Regions from separate parts of the Homo sapiens genome. Here region 2 is linked to region 1. Evidence: fine-mapped expression QTL. A gene starts in region 1. The other region holds a variant in brackets. All regions are shown on one strand. Distances are from middle to middle.

What was found.
Region 2: its variant is fine-mapped to the expression of TMEM254-AS1 in iPS cells (HipSci, PIP 0.95).

What each region holds. Positions count from the first base shown.
Region 1 is chr10:80,073,299-80,082,972 of GRCh38, forward strand. TMEM254-AS1 (TMEM254 antisense RNA 1) reads right to left here and starts at 5,895. Exons shown (of 4, transcript NR_027432.1): 1 at 5,429-5,895. It overlaps TMEM254 (transmembrane protein 254), which reads left to right and starts at 5,367. Exons shown (of 4, transcript NM_025125.4): 1 at 5,367-5,488; 2 at 8,543-8,646; 3 at 8,847-8,906. The coding sequence starts at 5,402.
Region 2 is chr10:80,026,133-80,035,806 of GRCh38, forward strand. It overlaps the pseudogene C1DP2. Among named protein-coding and RNA genes, the nearest start is that of TMEM254, 48 kb to the right of the region's middle. RefSeq lists an enhancer at 9,307-9,674. The variant T/C (reference allele first, on the strand shown) is at 4,381.

The DNA of each region.
Region 1 (9,674 bases):
TTTTTAGTAGAGGCGGGGTTTCACCACATTGGCCAGGATGGTCTCCATCTCTTGACCTCATGATCCGCCCGCCTCAGCCTCCCAAAGTCCTGGGATTACAGGCGTGAGCCACCGCGCCCAGCCGGTCTTCAGAAATATTTCTTGACTATTTGAGTGAATGATTCCTTGGTTTCCCTACCTAAAAAATGTAGCATTTTCCTTCTCCATTCTCATTATACTGTTTCAATAATTTTTCTTCTTCTCCTCCTTCCTTCCTTCCAATTTTACCTCCATCCAATGTACACAAGATATGTTCACTCCACTAGTTAAAACAAACAGAGCAGGTATGGTTGCTCATGCCTGTAATCCCAGCATTTTGGGAGGCCAAGGTGGGAGGATAGCTTGCGCTCAGGAGTTCAAAACCAGCCTGGGCTACATAGCGAGACCCTATCTCTATTAAAAATAATAATAATAATAATAATAATAATAATAATAATAATAATTAGCTCAGCATGGTGGCCCAAGCCTGACCTGTAGTCCCAGCAGTTTGGGAGGCTGAGGCAGGAGGATCACTTGAGCCCAGGAGTTCAAGACCAGCTGGGCAACATAGGGAGACTCGTCTCTACAAATAATAAATACATTAATTAAATAAAACAAACAGAATTTCACTGACTCACCTTGGCTAAGGGATCAAATCAAAACCCCTCGGTTTGATACCAAATGCCATTCATGATCAGGACTCCACCTGTCTTTGCAGCCTCAACTTCCTTCACTCAATTTCTTCACATTGTTTTTTTCTAGCAACAAAAAATTTCTCCTAATTCCCTGGACACACAATATTCTATTCAAATTTCTGTAAATTTGTTTAGGTCGCCCTTCCCCCATCCTATAATCCTGGGAAGGTGTGGGAGTTTTTTGCTGTATCTCAGCACTTGTCCATCCTATAGCCACCTCATCATAACTCCCCAAGGAGGACTACTTATTAATACCTCTGTATCTCTTGATACTGCATCATTTGTGTATTTGTGTTTGGGAGTGGACAGTATTATTTAAAATATTTTTTCTGGAATAGATAACTAATTGCCCCAAAATAATTTACTGAATAATCCATTATTCCTTCCTTAATTTGAAATGTTACCTTTATTATAAAATAAACGCTTGGATATGTATATACCAGATCCATGTCTGGAGTCTGCATTATTTTTTCATTGATCCATTTGTTGATTTCTGCATGTCAAGTGCCAAATGTTTTACATTATTATAGCTCTTTACAGTGTGTCTTGATATCTAGTAGGCCAATCTTATGAGGAAAAACAATGTTATTTTTGCTTTATTTTGCGTATCCCATAGGGCCATTAAGATTGAACCATCCTTTCATTTTGCTTGGTCTCAAGTTTTCTCTTTTGAGGATGCCCAATTCATATCCTTTAATCATTTGTCAATTACATATATTGGAGAATTCCTTCTTCCAGGTATTTCAACTTTATTTACAGTGTCATTCATATGAATGAAGCTTTTCATCTGGATGCAGTTAAATTTTCAATCTTTCCTTCTATGGCTTTTAATTTTAATAACTTGCTAAAAGGTTTCCTTCCCCTCCCTCAAAAGTTGTAAAACTATTCTCCCAGACTTTCTTCATTATTTTTCATATTTAGGTCACTAATCCATCTAGACAGGGGGATAAAAATGTCCAGGGATGAGATATTTCTCTGCCAATTCAGATGGGACAGCAGTGTAGGGTGCCTGGACCTTAGAGAATTCAGTCACCCCTGCCGTGTGTGAAGGGTGACTGTAATGAAGAAAGGAATGCCTTCTGAACATCCAGTTGACTGTAAGTTCTTCATGAATTTACATAAACTACTCACATCTGAACAAAGATCTTCTGGTACTGTCTTCTGGATTCCTTATCTGTGCGTGAGGGGCTAACAGTAAGATGTTTAGTGTTGAGCTGTTGGTGGCCAGGTACAGCCTCTAACTATAATCCCAGCACTTTGGGAGGCTGAGGTGGAAGGATTACTTAAGGCTGGGAGTTTGAGATCTGCCTGGGCAACATAGTGAAGCACCGTCTCTATTAAAAAAAAAAAAAATAGTGTGGAGTTGGAAGACATAGGACACTAAGTAACAGGCTGGGCTCCAAGCAGGGTTGTAGAAGACATGAAACTAAAACCTAGCTCCCTGTAGTCTGTTGACTGAAGCCATTTTGCCTCTCCAACATTTCTTGTAGCATGAATAATTTCTCCAATATCTCCCTCGTTGCAGATTTAATACCTAAATAGAAATACTGAAAAACGGCAGCCTAAAATTGGGGAAGTTCTTGAAACTTTTGGTAAGGTAGGCTGGGTATGGTGGCTCACACCTGTAATCTCAGCACTTGGGGAAGCCAAGGCAGGTGGATCACCTGAGGTCAGGAGTTTGAGACCAGCCTGGTCAACATGGCGAAACCCCATCTCTACTAAAAATACAAAAAATTAGCTGGGTGTGGTGGCATGTGACTGTAGTCCCAGCTACTAGAGAGAGTGTGGCAGGAGAATCACTTGAACCCAGAAGGCCAAGGTTGCAGTGAGCTGAGATTGCGCCATTGCACTACAATCTGAGCAATAGAGTGAGACTCTGTCTCAAAAAAAAAAAAAAGTTTTGGTATGGTAAAGGCTTGATCAGAACTGTACTTGAAAAAGATGATCCTGTTATTTGTCAGACAGATTCAATAAAGGGACTGCATGTGGGCTGAAGTGGCAGGAAGTAGGAAGGAGTGACTGACTCATGAGACAGTGGAGATGAAGCCATGATTTAATCTAGAAGGATTAGATATTGTATTACCCAATCAGTAGAACTCTTGACAGCTGATTAGTCTGCAATCTTTATATGATATGGGGGAAGTCAAAGCAAGGAATCTGGGTACAAGGTAGAAAGAAAGTGCTGTTCACATAGAGTAGGCCGGGCGAGGTGGCTCATACTTGTAATCCCAACACTTTGGGAGGCCGAGGCAGGCAGATCACCTGAGGTCAGGAGTTCGAGACCAGCCTGGCCAACATGGTGAAACCCCGTCTCCACAATTAGCCAAGCGTGGTGGTGCACACCTGTAATCCAAGCTACTCAGGAGGCTGAGACAGGGGAATCACTTGAAGTGGGGAGGCAGAGGTTGCAGTGAGCCGAGATCGCAACACTGCACTCCAGCCTGGGCAACAAGAGCAAAACTCCATCTCAAAAAAAAAAAAAAAAAAAAAAAAAACCACAGACAGGGTAGCCTTGGTGAGGATGGACTCTGTGGATAATGATAATGGACTTCTTGTCTTTGAGGTGTGAGTAATCTTTGGTAAAGGTGACCAACTGGGAAGAGGTGAGGGCTGAAGAGATTATTTTAGTCAGCTGAAGGTGAAAATTGAATCTGATAGGTACTGAAAACACAAAGAAGATAATAAGCAAAACTTATTCTAGGAGAGAAGAAAGAAAAGGAAAGCTGAGAAAACAAGGAGTTATTCAGAAGGAGGAGAAGAATAAAGAGGGTGGTGTGATCAAGGATGATAAGGACTAAGAAAACACCAATTGTTACAATTGTTACTGTTAATCTTGATATTCAAGAGCACTGTGGTCTACCTGGGAAATGGATTTCCTCACATATTCTGAAATTCATTCTTTAAGACTTTATATCCCAAGATACTCACGTAAAAAATGAGGAAAGAGAACCTTGGTTGGTTCCAGAGTGCCCTCTCTGGAACTGGAACACTCAGCTGCCAATTGTTTTCCAGTATTCCTCACCCACTTGGGCATGACAGGACCCTGTGCTGTTTCTTCTTCTTTGAAATAAGGACAATAGTTTACTGCCTAGGATTGTTTTAAGAATTAAATTAGTTAATTATTGTATAGTACTTAGAACAATGCCTTGAACATAGTAGGTGTTCAATAAATACCAGCTACAGTATAGTAACTTTTTTTTTTTTTTTTTGACGGAGTCTCACTCTATAGCCCAAGCTGAAGTGCAGTGATTGGATCTCGGCTCACTGCAACCTCCGCCTCCGGTGCTCAAGCAATTCTCGTGCCTCAGCCTCCCAAGTAGTTGGGACTATAGACACGCGCCACCACCCCCAGCTAATTTTTTGTATTTTAGTAGAGACAGGGTTTCACCATGTTCTCCAGGGTGGTCTCGAACTCCTGAGCGATCCACCCACCTCGGCCTCCAAAAGTGCCAGGATTATAGGCTTGAGCCACTGCGCTTGGCCAGTAACCCATTTTTAAGGCCCAGGTGAAATAGTTTTTCTATTTCTATGATTTTCTATTTCTATGATTAAATAGTGTTTAATCAGACACTTCAGCTGCATATACCTCCCACAGCTCATTGATGATACAACAGTTCGCACAGGGCCTGGCACACATGCTAAAGGCTCAGCAGTATTGATAATCACCCACACTTACAAAGCACTATGGGCCAGACACTGCTGTGCTTTCTTTACAGATATCAACTCATTTAACCCACCCTAAAAACCCTGAGGTTCCCAAAACTGGCATATCCTCATGTTACAGATACAGAAACTAAGACACAGCCGGGCTAAGTAATTAATCTAAGCTTACACAAATAGCCGAGACAGAGCCAGGACTTAAATCCAGGCAGCCTGTTTCACAGTCCCTGCTCATAACCATGGTGCTGTATAGTTCCAAACATCTTAACTAATGAGGACAGCATTATTTCTCAAGGTGCACAGCACAGAGAACTTCAAAAATTAGACTCTTAGTAAAACACCATCTTTTTTTTTTTTTTTTGAGACAGGGTCTTGCTGTGTTGCCCAGGCTGGAGTGCAGTGGCGTGATCTGGGCCCACTGCAACCTGCACCTCTCAGGTTCAAGAGAGTCTTGTCTCAGCCTCTGGAGTTGCTGGGACTACAGGCAGGCACCACCGCGCCCAGCAAATTTTTTGTATTTTTAGTACAGACGGGGTTTCACCATGTTGACCACGCTGGTCTCAAACTCCTGACCTCAAGTGATCTGCCCGACTCGGCCTCCCAAATTGCTGGAATTTATTCCAACACCTCATTCATTCATTCATTCATTCGAGACAGAGTCTAGCTATGTTACCCGGGCTGGTCTCAAACTCCTGGGCTCAAGGGATCTTTCTACCTCAGCCTCCCAACGTGCTGAGATTACAGGGACACGCCACCGCGCCAGCCCGAACATCTTTATCTTAAACCCAGAAAAGTGACAGGAGTGTCTCCCCTACAAGATGATGACCAGCCCTCCAGACCTGAGCCCAGGTGTGATTCCAAGGCCCCTGTACTGGGGCCAGACAGGGAGACTCGCTCTCAGGGACTTCCCAACCAGCACCATCTTCTCCCTGCGGGGATGGCGAGGGAGCGCGGGCCGGCCCCGGCCCTGCCTCCGCGCTCGCGCTCGACGGTGTCCTGAAGCGCGCTCCCGGGGAGGTGTTGCAGCCATGGCTACGGCAGCCGGCGCGACCTACTTTCAGCGAGGCAGTCTGTTCTGGTTCACAGTCATCACCCTCAGCTTTGGCTACTACACAGTAAGGACAGCCGCTGGAGCGCTACGGTCTGACGAACGAGCGAGCGCTCGGTTCACCCCAGGACCTGGGCTCACAGGCCGCGGGCCGGGGGAAGTCGTGCAAGCACAATCCCGACTCCCGCGCGCTAGGAGCGGAGGGGAGGGGACCAGACTCCGCAATGAGAGCAAGCATACTGGTCCGCCAGGGTCTTGGGCGGGCGCCCAGGGCCCTGAGAAACCGGCTAGCCAGGCTTTTCTTATATGGGGGCGGGGACGGCTGGGGAGCTCCCAGCCAACTCTGTGTCTGGGTTTTTCAAGAGGATGGTGAAGTCGGAGGCCAGCAATGCGGCTACCGCCTATTTCCGTCCAGCAAGACCCTTGCCCTCTCTGGTCACAGTCCTGGGGCTGGGCTACTTCGCGGTGAGGCGTGGGGTGGGGCGGGGCGGGCCTCTGTTTTGGCCCGCCGGGCCCTCGTAGGGCGAGGGGAGCTCTGGGAACGGGGCCTGTGCGCACGCGCATCTGACGGTTGTCTCGGTTACTCATGTAAGCGGAAATTCGGTGGGCTCTTAGGATAGTTTCTGCTTTCTAGTGTTCCTGTCTTTGGGTCCTCACCTCTGCATGGTTACTAACGGGTTATCCGAGCCTAAGCCTCTCACGAAGCGGAAAGTCAAGTTAACAGACTGCCATAGGCCTGCCAAGTCAGAATAGGGCTTCCGAAGCAGAATGTTTGAGCCAATAGGAATTGTTTGGAAAACGGGGATAAATCTAAAGGATGGGTAGGATTTAAGTGGTAAGGGAGGATAAAGAGGCTATAACTGTTCTGACATAGGTGTGGAAGCAAGAAGAAAGCTGTACCTAGAAAAAGAGCGACGTTTGTTTGGCTGAGAAATAATCTGTTTAAAGGATAACGAGAAAGATGCGTGGAAAAGTAGGTTGGGGGCTAAGGTGGTAGTTTTGTGTTTTTTTGAGACGGAGTCTCGCTCTGTCACCCAGGCTGGAGTGCAGTGGGGCGATCTCGGCTCACTGCAACCTCTGCTTCCCAGGTTCAAGCGATTCTCATGTCTTTACCTGTAGCTGGGATTACACTATGCCCAGCTATTTTTTTGTGTTTTTAGTAGACATGGGTATTGGTGAGGCTGGCCTCGAACTCCTAACGTCAAGTGATAAGGTGGTAAAATTTTGAAGGAAGGCGAAGCTATTTGGGTATACCAATAGATCCTGGAGATTGGAGATTTGTCTTGTCCACAGTGTTGTTTGTTGGTGTCAAATCTGACAACCTATGTCCTGATTTCCCCATATGTACAATGGAGGTGTTGAACTGAAAATTTTCAAAGGTGCATTTCTGTTCTACGATTTAGTGTCTGTGACTAGTTAGAATATAGTTGGAGGAAAGCTTTGGGGACTTCAAATTGGGATCTTGTGGAGCTGGCAGATGCTCCCCTTTCCCTTTGGTTTGGGAGGATGCAGTGATATTTGTGCATTATTTAACTTTCAGATGTGAAACAACATCGTGAGAGAGGTAGTACTGCTCTTGACAAAGATTTGAATGGGACAATACATTTTGAAACTGTTGAGTTATTCTCAGAAAAGTCTTAGCTGACAGAAGTTACAATACAGAGGCTGAAAGTTAAGATTACGAAAAATTTATGTGATTAAGCAGTTGCTATTAAAATGTCACAACCTTATCTCACTTATTTTCCATCTCTATGCAGTGGATCATTCTCAGTTTTAGCCGTACAAAAAGGGAAAGCCGAGAAAGGAATTCTAAATTAAACAGAGGTTTGGCTGGAGCCAGTTTCTGCAGTAAAGAAACTAGCCAAAGCACATAAACTCAAAATTTGCTAATATCTTTTATAAAATAATGGTTTTGGTGGAATGTATTAATAGGAGTCAGCCAGGCATGGTGGTTCACCCCTGTAATCCCAGCACTTTGGGAGGCCGAGGCGGGCAAATCGCTTGAGCCCAGGAGTTCGAGACCATCCTGGGCAACATGGCAAAACCTCATCTCTACACACACACACACACACAAAATTAGCCATGGGCAGTGGCTCACACCTGTAATCCCAGCACTTTGAGAAGCCGAGAAGGGCGGATCACCTGATGTCAGGAGTTGGAGATCAGCCTGGCCAACATGGTGAAACTCTGTCTGTATTAAAAATACAAAAATTAGCTGGGCGTGGTGGCATGCACCTGTAGTCCCAGCTACTCTGGAGGCTGAGACAGGAGAGTCGTTTGAATCCGCGAGGCGGAGGTTACAGAGAGCCGAGATCGTGCCACTGCACTCCAGCCTAAGCGACAGAGTGAAACTCCATCTAAAATAAATAAATAAATAAATAAATTAGTCAGTCGTGGTAGCCATGCCTGTATTCCAGCTACTTGGGGAAGCTGAGTTGGGAGGATCGCTTGAGCCCGGGAAGTCAAGGGTGCAGTGAGCCGTGATCAGGCCACTGCACTCAAGCCTGGGTGACAAAGCGAGATCCCTTCTCTACAAAGAAAACAAAAGAAGAAAAGGAAGAAAAAAAGACTTTAAGAGTCATCCACCGTGGGCACTGAGTCTGATAACCACATACTTTCCTCAGCATAAGTCTCCCAGTAGAGTTGCTTTTAGAAAATAGAAGTCATCCTGGCACAGTAGGTCATGCCTGTAATCCCAGCACTTTGGGAGGCCAAGATTGGAGAATTGCTTGAGCCCTGGAGTTGGAAACCATCCTGGGCAACATAGTGAGACCCCATCTCTATATACAATTTTTAAAAGTAGCTGGGCATGGTGGCACACACGTGTAGTCCCATCTACTTGGGAGGCTGAGGTGGGAGGATGGATTGAGCCCAGATGGTGGAGGCTGCAGTGAGTCATGATCATGCCACTGCACTCCAGCCCCAGCAGCGGAGTGAGACCCTGTCAAAAAAAAAAGAAAGAAAGAAAATAGAAGCCAAGAATGGAGACCCAAATGACTGTTCAGAGTTTCTTCGGTCTGTGGTAATTTTTTTACTGTTTCACAGCCTTTCTCAAAAACAAAAACAAAAAACAGGTTTTAAGTGACCTAATAGGTATTCTGTGTCTCTGCTTCTCTTTCAGTGGGTTGTCTTCTGGCCTCAGAGTATCCCTTATCAGAACCTTGGGCCCCTGGGCCCCTTCACTCAGTACTTGGTGGACCACCATCACACCCTCCTGTGCAATGGGTAAGGAGAGCTGCACAAGTGGACTGTGGACACTGGAGCTCTGGTCTCATGGGAAACCTGGAAGGCCTGCAGCTGCCTTTTGGTATCTAAGAGTAGTGTCGGTTCACCTTAAGGCACTTTTCTTTTTGAGATTGCTGTGTTAGATTTCATCAGCAGATAACTATCACCTTAAAAAAGATTAACCTTTTTTTTGGTTTCAGGTATTGGCTTGCCTGGCTGATTCATGTGGGAGAGTCCTTGTATGCCATAGTATTGTGCAAGTAAGTCTTTGAAGTAGGTGTTTGTTGCCTTTCTCTTAGTAGCTAATATAAATTGAGAGCAGCCACATTTAAATAGTTCACACACTTGTAGGCTGAGAATATTCTCAGGGTAGAGCGGAATCCCCATGCCTGATACTGAGCCTGGAGCAGAGGCAGTACCCAGTAAATGTTTGATGAATGCATTCATTTTGTTTATGTTGGTTAACCAATTACTTAGTTATCTAATTCAGATGACTTTTGTTATTTTTTAACAAATTTTCTGGGTAGCCCCAACTAGATCAAAAGACTAGGAATAGGAGCCTGGCTTCTAGTTTACAAAAGAGCTAAGTGACTGACCTAGGCCGATGACTCACAATCCTCGTTTTACAATTGAGCCACCTGAGGAGCTTTTTCAAAATACACACGTCTGGTTTCCAGACCCAGAGATTCTGATTGGGTAAGTCTTGCCTCAGAGATAGGAATGTGCTCTTTTTAAAAGCTCCACAGATAATTCTAGGATGCAATGCTAGTTAAAAGCCCCCAAACCAGACCCCACTCAGGAGATGCTAGTATAGGTTAATGCTATGTGAGAATACAAGAAAAAATTATGTTTGTACTTTATATAAGCATATACAGAAAGTATGGTACAATGAAAAACATGGTTATGGAAATGCCAAATTGCTTCTTTCCAATTAATTTCTGGTCAAGATAATAATTAATTGAATTAATTTCTGGTCAAGATATACTATCACCTCTATTATTTTTCTATTCTAAAAGTGGAAAATAAGA
Region 2 (9,674 bases), 47 kb before region 1:
GTAAAAGAAAAGCCTCTTTGGATTTACTTTTCCATGTCCTAAAGTACTTTTCAATTAAAAGTGAAGACCAATCAATCCTCTCAGGGCCATTGTAAGGCACAGCACTTGGTTTCAATGAATAAGAGGACATCACAGATTTGTCCCTCACCAGTGAGGGGTGAGATATTCCAATCCTGCAAGCACAGGGTCATGTTGAAACCATCTTCAAGAAAACAGAACCAGGGCTGGGCGTGGTGGCTCATGCCTGTAATCCCAGCAATTTGGGAGGCTGAGGCAGGTGAATCGCCTGAGGTCAGGAGTTCCATACCAGCCTGGCCAACATGGTGAAACCCCATGTCTAATAAAAATACAAAAATTAGCTGGGCGTGGTGGTGGGTGCCTATAATCCCAGCTACTCCAGAGGCTGAGGCAGGAGAATCACTTGAACCCGGGAGCTGGAGGTTGCAGTGAGCCAAAATCCTGCCACTGCACTCCAGCCTGGGAGACAGAGGGAGACTCCATCTCAGAAAAAAAAAAAAAAAAACAGAACCAGATTTCCCACTGGCACTGACAGGGCTGGTATTCTTAAAGCAGTAACTTTGAATTTGTATCTGGACACATTTCCATAATTAAAAGAAAGAAAAGAAAAAATAAAAATAAAACAACAACAAGAACAAAACATAAAACAAAGAAAAAGAGATATCTCAAGGTTACTTTACATCACTAGGCCTACACCCAAGGGTAGAGACCAAAGCACCAGCTGTTCTTCAGAGAAGAAACACGATGATCCAGATGAAAGAAAGATGTTTCCCAATGGGCTCAGATGTCCTTTTAGAATCAAGGGAATGTCCCTAGTACATGCCAAATCACTACTTAAAGTTTATCTGGTGGGGCATGGTGCCTCATACCCATAATCCCAGCACTTTGGGAGGTCAAGGCATGAGGATCACTTGAGCCCAGGAGTTTGAGGCCAGCCCTGGCAACACAGCAAGACCCCATCTCTACAAAAAATAAAACGACTAGCTGGTGTGGTGGTGCGACCTGTAGTCCCAGCTACTCAGGAGGCTGGAGTGAGAAGATCACTTGAGGCTGAGAGTCAGGGCTGCAGTGATTACAGGCATGAGCCACCGTGCCTGGCCTTTTTTTTTTTTTTTTTTTCATCATGTAATACGTCCATGTAATGAAATTTATTTCTTACAGTGCTGAAGGCTGGGAAGTCCACAGTCTCTGGGCCGCAGCTGGTTGGCTTCTGGCAAGGGCCTCATCCTGCATCATAACATGGTGGACAGCATCACATGGAGGGAAGTCGCAGGAGACAGAGCCGAACAGGCTTTTATAACAGACCCACTCTCATGATAATTCACACACCATTATTCCTACTCACCCATTAACCCACTCACTCAGGAATGGATTCACCCATTCATGAAGGCAGGGACCTCATGATCCAATTATCTCTTAAAGGACCCACCTCTTAATCCTGTTACTTTGCAGACTAAGTTTCAGCATGAATTTCAGAGAGGACAAACAAATCATAGCACCATTTTAGTCAAATACACCTCAATAAGAATTTCACCATTTTACTTAATCTTTTCAGTGAATAAAGTATTTGATTTTGCAATTAGATTTTGATTATGGGATAGAATGTGCAAAGAAATAAACTTTTGTAGAAACCACAATAGTTCTTTTTATTTCCACCTATCAGTCTAGGTGTTTATAAAACTCAACTTGACTTTTTAAAAAATTATAGAATGGACATGGCAACAGGCAGATATTACTCCATGAGACTCAGCTTCTCCTGTTCTTTTTTTTTTTTTTTTTGAGACAGAGTCTTGCTGTGTTGCCCAGGCTGAAGTGCAGTGGCATGATCTTGGCTCGCTGCAACCTCCGCTTCCCAGGTTCAACCAATTCTCCTGCCTCAGCTTCCCAGGTAGCTGGGATTACAGGCACAGGTCACCACGCCTGGCTAATTTTTTGGTATTTTTATTAGAGACTGGGTTTCACCATGTTGGTCAGTCTGGTCTCAGACTCCTGACCTCAAACGATCTGCCCACCTCAGCCTCCCAAAATGGCTTCTCCTATTCTTGAAGAAATCAACACATCTACAGCTGACATTTCAACTATTGTTGTGATGGGCTACCAAGGGCATATAGTGACAGAAGATCTAAGATCCAGATGGAGCACTGTAAGTTGATAGAAACACCAGTGAAATTTCCTATAGGAATTTCTCTTGGCCACATCATATCTGAGCTAAGAACTATAACCCACTTTTCAAAAGAGTGAATATTTTATTCACCTGAAAGCTGTGCATATCTGGACTCCAACTGGACAGGGGAGGCCGCAGAGGGGCAGGCTAGTTCCTTTAAGGAGACACCATGAGATGACCAGGGACTATCCAAACTATCCATATCCCCACAGCAGGCTCCCCACTGCACCTGGACTGCCACCTGCCACCCTTCTACTTCTCTCCAACCTTGGTTTCCAGCTGGAGCTGGTTGGAGAGTGGAGGGACTACGCTGTGAGCCCTGGAGACTCTGTGTGGGGTACATACTCCTTTGTTTGGAACCAAACACAAATTATCAACTCCTGTTAGCAAGAGACCATGAGGTCAGTGAAAGAAAAAGAAAAAGCCCTTTTTTTTTTCTTTTTTTTTTTTTTTTCCGTTTTTTGAGACCAGGTCTCACACTCTCACCTAGGCTGGAGTGCAGCAGCACGTTCTTGGTTCACTGCAACCTCTGCTTCCTGGGCTTAAGCAATTCTCCAGCATCAGCCTCCTGAGCCCCTGAAATTATAGGCATGGATCACCACACCAGGCTAATTTTTATATTTTTTGTAGAGATGGGGTTTCACCATGTTGTCCAGACTGGTCTCAAATTCCCGAGCTCAAGTGATCTGCCCGCCTTAGCCTTCCAAAGTGCTGGGATTACAGGCATGACCTACTGCACCCGGCCTAAAGGCTTTATTGTCTATAACAATAAATAAACAAAAAGATCTATGGATCGGGGAGACACAGGCTCCAGTGTAAGACAAAAATTGAGCTCCAAAGAACAAAAAGAGGTCTAGGGAAAGGTCCTGCCCTAGACGTCAATATGGTCTGTACATGCAAATGAGGATTGAAACTGGTTCAGACCTCACTGGTTGAAAATAACTGTGTCTCAGTTGGGTAGTTTCTAAGCCCAAAGCCAGTGGTCTCTGTAGGGTGCCCCTTTCAAGCAGCTGGCAGGAGATTTCCAGCCACGTGTCTCGGCTCTGGTTTCAGAAGCCATCTTAGCTCAGAGGTACAAACAGGATGTTTGTCTAGAGCTGCCCTCTCCTGGAAAGAGGAAGGCATGACTGCTCTTCTCTCACCCCACCATGGCCCCTTGGCTCCCATCATCTTCATTTGAGTGTCACTTTCAGCCACAAGACGTCCTTCTCCTCTGGAGAGCTTGGGGTCATCCTTAGAGCTTCATTTCAGACTCCCAACTTGCACAAAGTCCCAGTTGCTCCTGCTAGGGAATGAGGCCCAACATTCCCACCAGAACCAGGCTCAGACCTTTCTCTCCAAAGCTAAAATACAATCTCAAGTAATGACAAGCCAATCCCAATTCTGCCTCTAGGCACTAACTCCCCATTTTTGGCTCCAAAGACAGGGCCACCTTTTGAAACCACCTTTGCAAAATTATGACAGTAATTTGAGTCTGACATAATTGACTCTATCTTGTTTCTAACCTCCAAGCTATGTTCAGTCATTCCTGGACATAGATCAAGCTGCTGACTTTGGGAGAAATGTAGCTTATAGTTTTTTTTATTTGACTTGATTATTTTATTTTATTTTATTTTTTTGAGAAGAAGTTTTGCTCTGTCGCCCACACTGGAGTGCAGTGCACTCGGGTCACTGCAACCTCTGCCTCCCAAGCCTAGCCAGTTGGGCCTGCTGCCACTGCGAATGCCAGAGGGAGACTCACCAGGTCAGGAGAGCATGAGCTGGGCAGGCCTCACGGCCACATGCAGGGCTGATAACCCCAGGTCACAGGTAGCATAACAGTTGTACACCACTGGTGCCACTGCATTGCCTAACTGCCCACAGACATACCCCACAACCCACTTGACTCTAGGAAGCACAGGGGACCACAGAGATGTCACTGGGGAGTTGCGGATCCCTTGGTGTCATAACCCTCTGTGCAGTCCCCTCAAGGTTGGGGGAGTGCAGCCCACCAAAGCCACCTTTGGAACAAAAGAAACATGGCCACAGCACTAGTCACTGAAGGAGTCACCATAAGAGCCTGGGAATGGACATGGAGAGGGTGTCATCTCTTGCCTCTCATTTCCCCTCCCCAGTGCACTGTTGCAGATGAGGCAGGGGCACTTCCACTTGGGACCCAGTAAGCACGTGATGAAAGAGGCTGCTCTGGCCGGGCGTGG[T/C]GGCTCATCCCTGCAATCCCAGCACTGTGGGAGGTGGAGGTGGAGGTGGGCAGATCACCTGAGGTCAGGTGTTCTAGACCAGCCTAACCAACGTGGAGAAACCCCATCTCTAGTAAAAATACAAAATTAGCTGGGCGTTGTGGTGCACACCTGTAATCCCAGCTACTCAGGAGGCTGAGGCAGGAGAATTGCTTCAATCCGGGAGGCGCAGGTTGTAGTGAGCCGAGATCACGCCATTGCACTCCAGCCTGGGCAACAAGAGTGAAACTCAGTCTCAAACAAACAAGAAAACTAAAAATAGAATTACCATTCAACCCAGCAATCCCACTACTAGATATATGCCTAAAGGAAAATAAATAATTCTACCAAAAGACACCTGCATTCCTATGCTTATCACAGCACTATTCACAATAGTAAAGTCATGAAACCAACTTAGGTGCCCATCAGTGGTGTACTGAATAAGGAAAATGCGGTACATATACACCATGGAATACTACACAGCCATAAAAAGAATGATATCATAGACTTTGCAGCAACATGGATGCAGCTAGAAACCATTATTCTAAGAAAATTAATGCAGAAACAAAAAACCAAGTATTGCATGTTTTCACTTATAACTCAGAGTTAAACCCTCGGTGCACACAGACATAAAGATGAGAACAAAAGACACTAGGTACGCCAAAAGAAGAGAAGGAAGGGGGGGAGGAAAGGGTTGAAAAACTATCTATAGGATACTAGGTTCACTTTTTGAGTGACAGGATCAATAAAAGCCCAAACCTCAGGACAATTGATTTGCAGTATGTGCAAATATATCCATGTAACTAACCTGCACATGAAACTTCAAATCTAAAATAAAAAATAAAATAAAATAAAGCAATGACTGGATTAAAACTTCTACCAAGAGATCATTTCAGTTGTCTACACTACTACAGAGGAAAAATAGTGTGTGCTTTTGCTACAACTGATGAGCTCAAAATAAATAAGAGAAAGAAGAAATAGACAGTGAATTGGGGAAGTAGCTAACTGTATCTGGAACTGCATCCAATCAGCTACATTAAATGGCCTTTATTGAGTATTTTATATGTGTCTGTGGATGGCATAAGTGTGTTATTTCATTGAAAATAGTACAAATATTTTCAAAGAACATTTCACTTAAATTTCACAGTTCCTAAGAAAATGCTACCTGCAAGACTGACCTACATAAAGAAATAAGAGTCTCTTCAAAAGAGATGGTAAATTGTAAATATAAAATATATCACAATGTTAAAATCCTCATAGTGCAAATCAATAAAGATAACAACCTTTGGAGAGGAAAGTATTGAGCTTTACAAATTTACTGTAAATTTACATATTAATTCAACAAGGAATACATTTAAACCTTGCTCTGTCACAGAATTACTTTGTGGGAAAAAAAGAGATGTACTTTTTGAATATGTGTACATCAAATCCAAAAAGTTAACTTTTACTTTTTCCTTTATGGGCAACTTTGGATGTATTTTTCGGTTTTGGTTCCCAGAGGGCATTTCTTACAAATCTTGAAGCTGCACCTCTGTCCAGCTTGCCAGCCTTTTTCTTGTCTGTTATTTCCTTGACTCTGTTCATATATACTCTGATTCTTTCCAATTCCTGCTTTACTGGATGTTCCTTAGGATTCACTCCTTGAGTTGCCAAATAAACCCAAAACATTGAATTTAATGTGTATGCAGAAACCAAATCCACTTTTGCTTGTTCAAGTGGGTCCAACTTCTGCAACAACTCATTTCTAGAAACAGACATCATGTTCTTCAGCATCTCATCCACAGCATCAATGGAATTCGCAAATGCTGACAAATAATCGTGAATTTCTACTGGATAGTCCTCATTAATTTCTTCAGCTGCCATCATGGCTGACTCACGGCCTTCGACTCCAGTGTCCTAGAAAGCAGTTGGGCAATGATGACATCAATGACGTGCCAGATCTAGAACAGAGTCTTATAAAAGTATTTCTCTACATTCCCAGAAATACATTTATTATAATTGCATCTTATGGCCCTTTTTTCAACAGAAGTAAACTTCCTGGAACATTGGAAGAGCACAAAATTTATTTTCTAAATGAAATATTCTAAGACGCTTGTCATTCTCTCAGGTTCAAAGCCTAAAGAGGTACACCAATAAAACAAGATTCACTATCCCATCGAAGATCATGGGGAGATGTTTGCTCAGGTGGTCACGTGATGTGCAGAAACAGAGGGAGACACAATTGAACTAAATAAAGAAAGACGTAGGCTGGACGCAGTAGCTCAGCCTGTGATCCCAAGACTTTAGGAGGCCAAGGCAGCACACTGCTTGAACCTAGGAGTTCTACATATATATATATATATATATATATAAAATATATATACATAATATAAATATATATTTTATAAATATAAACATATATTTATATACATTATATATAAATATATATTTATATATAATATATTATAAATATAAATATATGTAATATAAATATATATATAATATGTATATATATATTAAAAATATGTAATCCCGGCTACGTGGGAGGCTGAGGCAGGAGAATCGCTTGAACTCAAGAGGTAGAGTTTTCAGTGAGCCGAAATCTTGCCACTGCACTGTAGCCTGGGAAACAGAGGGAGACTCCATCTCAGAAAAAAAAAAACAGAACCAGATTTCCCACTGGCACTGACAGGGCTGGTATTCTTAAGGCAGTAACTTTGAATTTGCATCTGGACACATTTCCATTATTAAAAGAAAAAAAAGAAAAAATAAAAATAAATAAAACAACAAGAACAAAACATAAAACCAAGAAAAAGAGATGTCTGAAGATTACTTTACATCACTAGGCCTACACCCAAGGGTAGAGACCAAAGCACCAGCTGTTCTTCAGAGAAGAAACACGATGATCCAGATGAAAGAAAGATGTTTCCCAATGGGTTCAGATGTCCTTTTAGAATCAAGGGAATGTCCCTAGTATATGCCAAATCACTACTTAAAGTTTATCTGGTGGGGCATGGTGCCTCATACCCATAATCCCAGCACTTTGGGAGGTCGAGGCATGAGGATCACTTGAGCCCAGGAGTTTGAGGCCAGCCCTGGCAACACAGCAAGACCCCATCTCTACAAAAAATAAAACGACTAGCTGGTGTGGTGGTGCGACCTGTAGTCCCAGCTACTCAGGAGGCTGGAGTGAGAAGATCACTTGAGGCTGAGAGTCAGGGCTGCAGTGATTACAGGCATGAGCCACCGCGCCCGCCTTTTTTTTTTTTTTTTTTTCATCATGTAATACGTCCATGTAATGAAATTTATTTCTTACAGTGCTGGAGTCTGGGAAGTCCACAGTCCACGGGCTACAGCTGGTTGGCTTCTGGCAAGGGCCTCATCCTGCATCATAACATGGTGGACAGCATCACATGGAGGGAAGTTCGCAGGAGACAGAGCCGAACAGGCTTTTATAACAGACCCTCTCTCATGATAATTCACTCCCCATTATTCCTACTCACCCATTAACCCACTCACTCAGGAATGGATTCACCCATTCATGAAGGCAGGGACCTCATGATCCAATTATCTCTTAAAGGACCCACCTCTTAATCCTGTTACTTTGCAGACTAAGTTTCAGCATGAATTTCAGAGAGGACAAACAAATCATAGCACCATTTTAGTCAAATACACCTCAATAAGAATTTCACGATTTTACTTAATCTTTTCAGTGAATAAAGTATTTGATTTTGCAATTAGATTTTGATTATGGGATAGAATGCACAAATAAATAAACTTTGGTGGAAACTATAATTGTTTCTTTTTCTTCCACCTATCAGTCTAGGTATTCCTAAAACTCAACTTGACTTTTTAAAAAATTATAGAATGTACATGACATGCAAATAGGCAGATTTTTCCCCATGAGACTCAGCTTCTCCTATTCTTTTTTTTTTTTTTTCTGAGACAGAGTCTTGCTATGTTGCCCAGGCTGGAGTGCAGTGGCACGATCTCGGCTCACTGAAACCTCTGCTCCCCAGATTCAAGCAATTCTCCTGCCTCAGCCTCCAAAGTAACTGGGATGACTGGTTTCTGTCACCACACCCAGCTAATTTTTGTATTTTTAGTAGAAACAGGGTTTCACCATGTTGGTCAGCCAGGTCTGGAACTCCTGACCTCAGGTGATTCTCCCACCTCAGCCTCCCGAAGTGATGAGATTACAGGCTCGAGCCACTGCCTCCAGCTGTGACTTAAACTATCATAAACTCTAGAAAACAAGCCCTTTAGCATCAACACAGAGAACAGCCAGCAGGCTGATAGGAACTTACCATTTGAACTTTTGGCCAAATCCATACTGGGAAGGGAGGCCTGGATTCCAGAGTCTAGTGACTTCACAGAACAACTGCCAGGGACACAAGATACAAAAAAACGCAGGGTGGCCCACCCATCTCTCAAACTGCTGACATCAGGTGACCCGCCCCCCTCCGGACCCAAAGTGCTGGGATTACAGGCATGAGCCACTGAGCCTGGCCACACCCATTTCTTAAATACCTTTCTACTGAATCCCTTCATTAAATATTTAACACCACTTAAAAGGATTTTGAAGTAATTAGATTAAGGGTAAGATGAATTTTAAGTAGAAGTACAGATTCTACTACGTAATTTTTCGTCTATCATGATACTTTTCCAAATATGACTTTGGTTTTCTGCTCTCTAGTTTCCACATATTTAAGCATTTTCTTCTCTGAGTTCAGGTTCTTTTATTTCTTAATTATTTTGGCTTGGCCATGTTATTTCACAAATGGAGAGTCTCGCCTTACTTTATACGTTTCACATTCTCCGCAGCTTTTCCTGAAAAGTATTTTATCCCATCATCAATGTGGTGGTCTGGCCATATGTCAAGTTAGTTAGTCTAAGCTCTGCAGTTCATCCATCAAACATGAATGCAAGTGTTGCTATAAATGCATTTTGCATGTGTGATTAATATATAAAATCAATTGGCTTTACCCAAAACAGATTATTCACTGTAATGCGGGTGGGACTGGAGAGCAACTTTAGCTCCTGCCTGAGAGTGTCAGCTTACCTTTCCCTACAAATTTCTTTCCTGCCTAGTCAGTCCCCACAATTGTGTAAGTCAATTTCCTTGAAAACTGGTTCTGTTTCTCTGGTCGAATTTTGACTGACACAGATATTGGTCCTGTTAGTGGCTGTATAACAAAGAATGTTATAGATGAGTTTTCTGAATTGATTCTGGGTTTCTAAAATTGATTCTCTAATCAAATAAACTTTAAGGGCACTGGCCAGGCACGGTGGCTCAG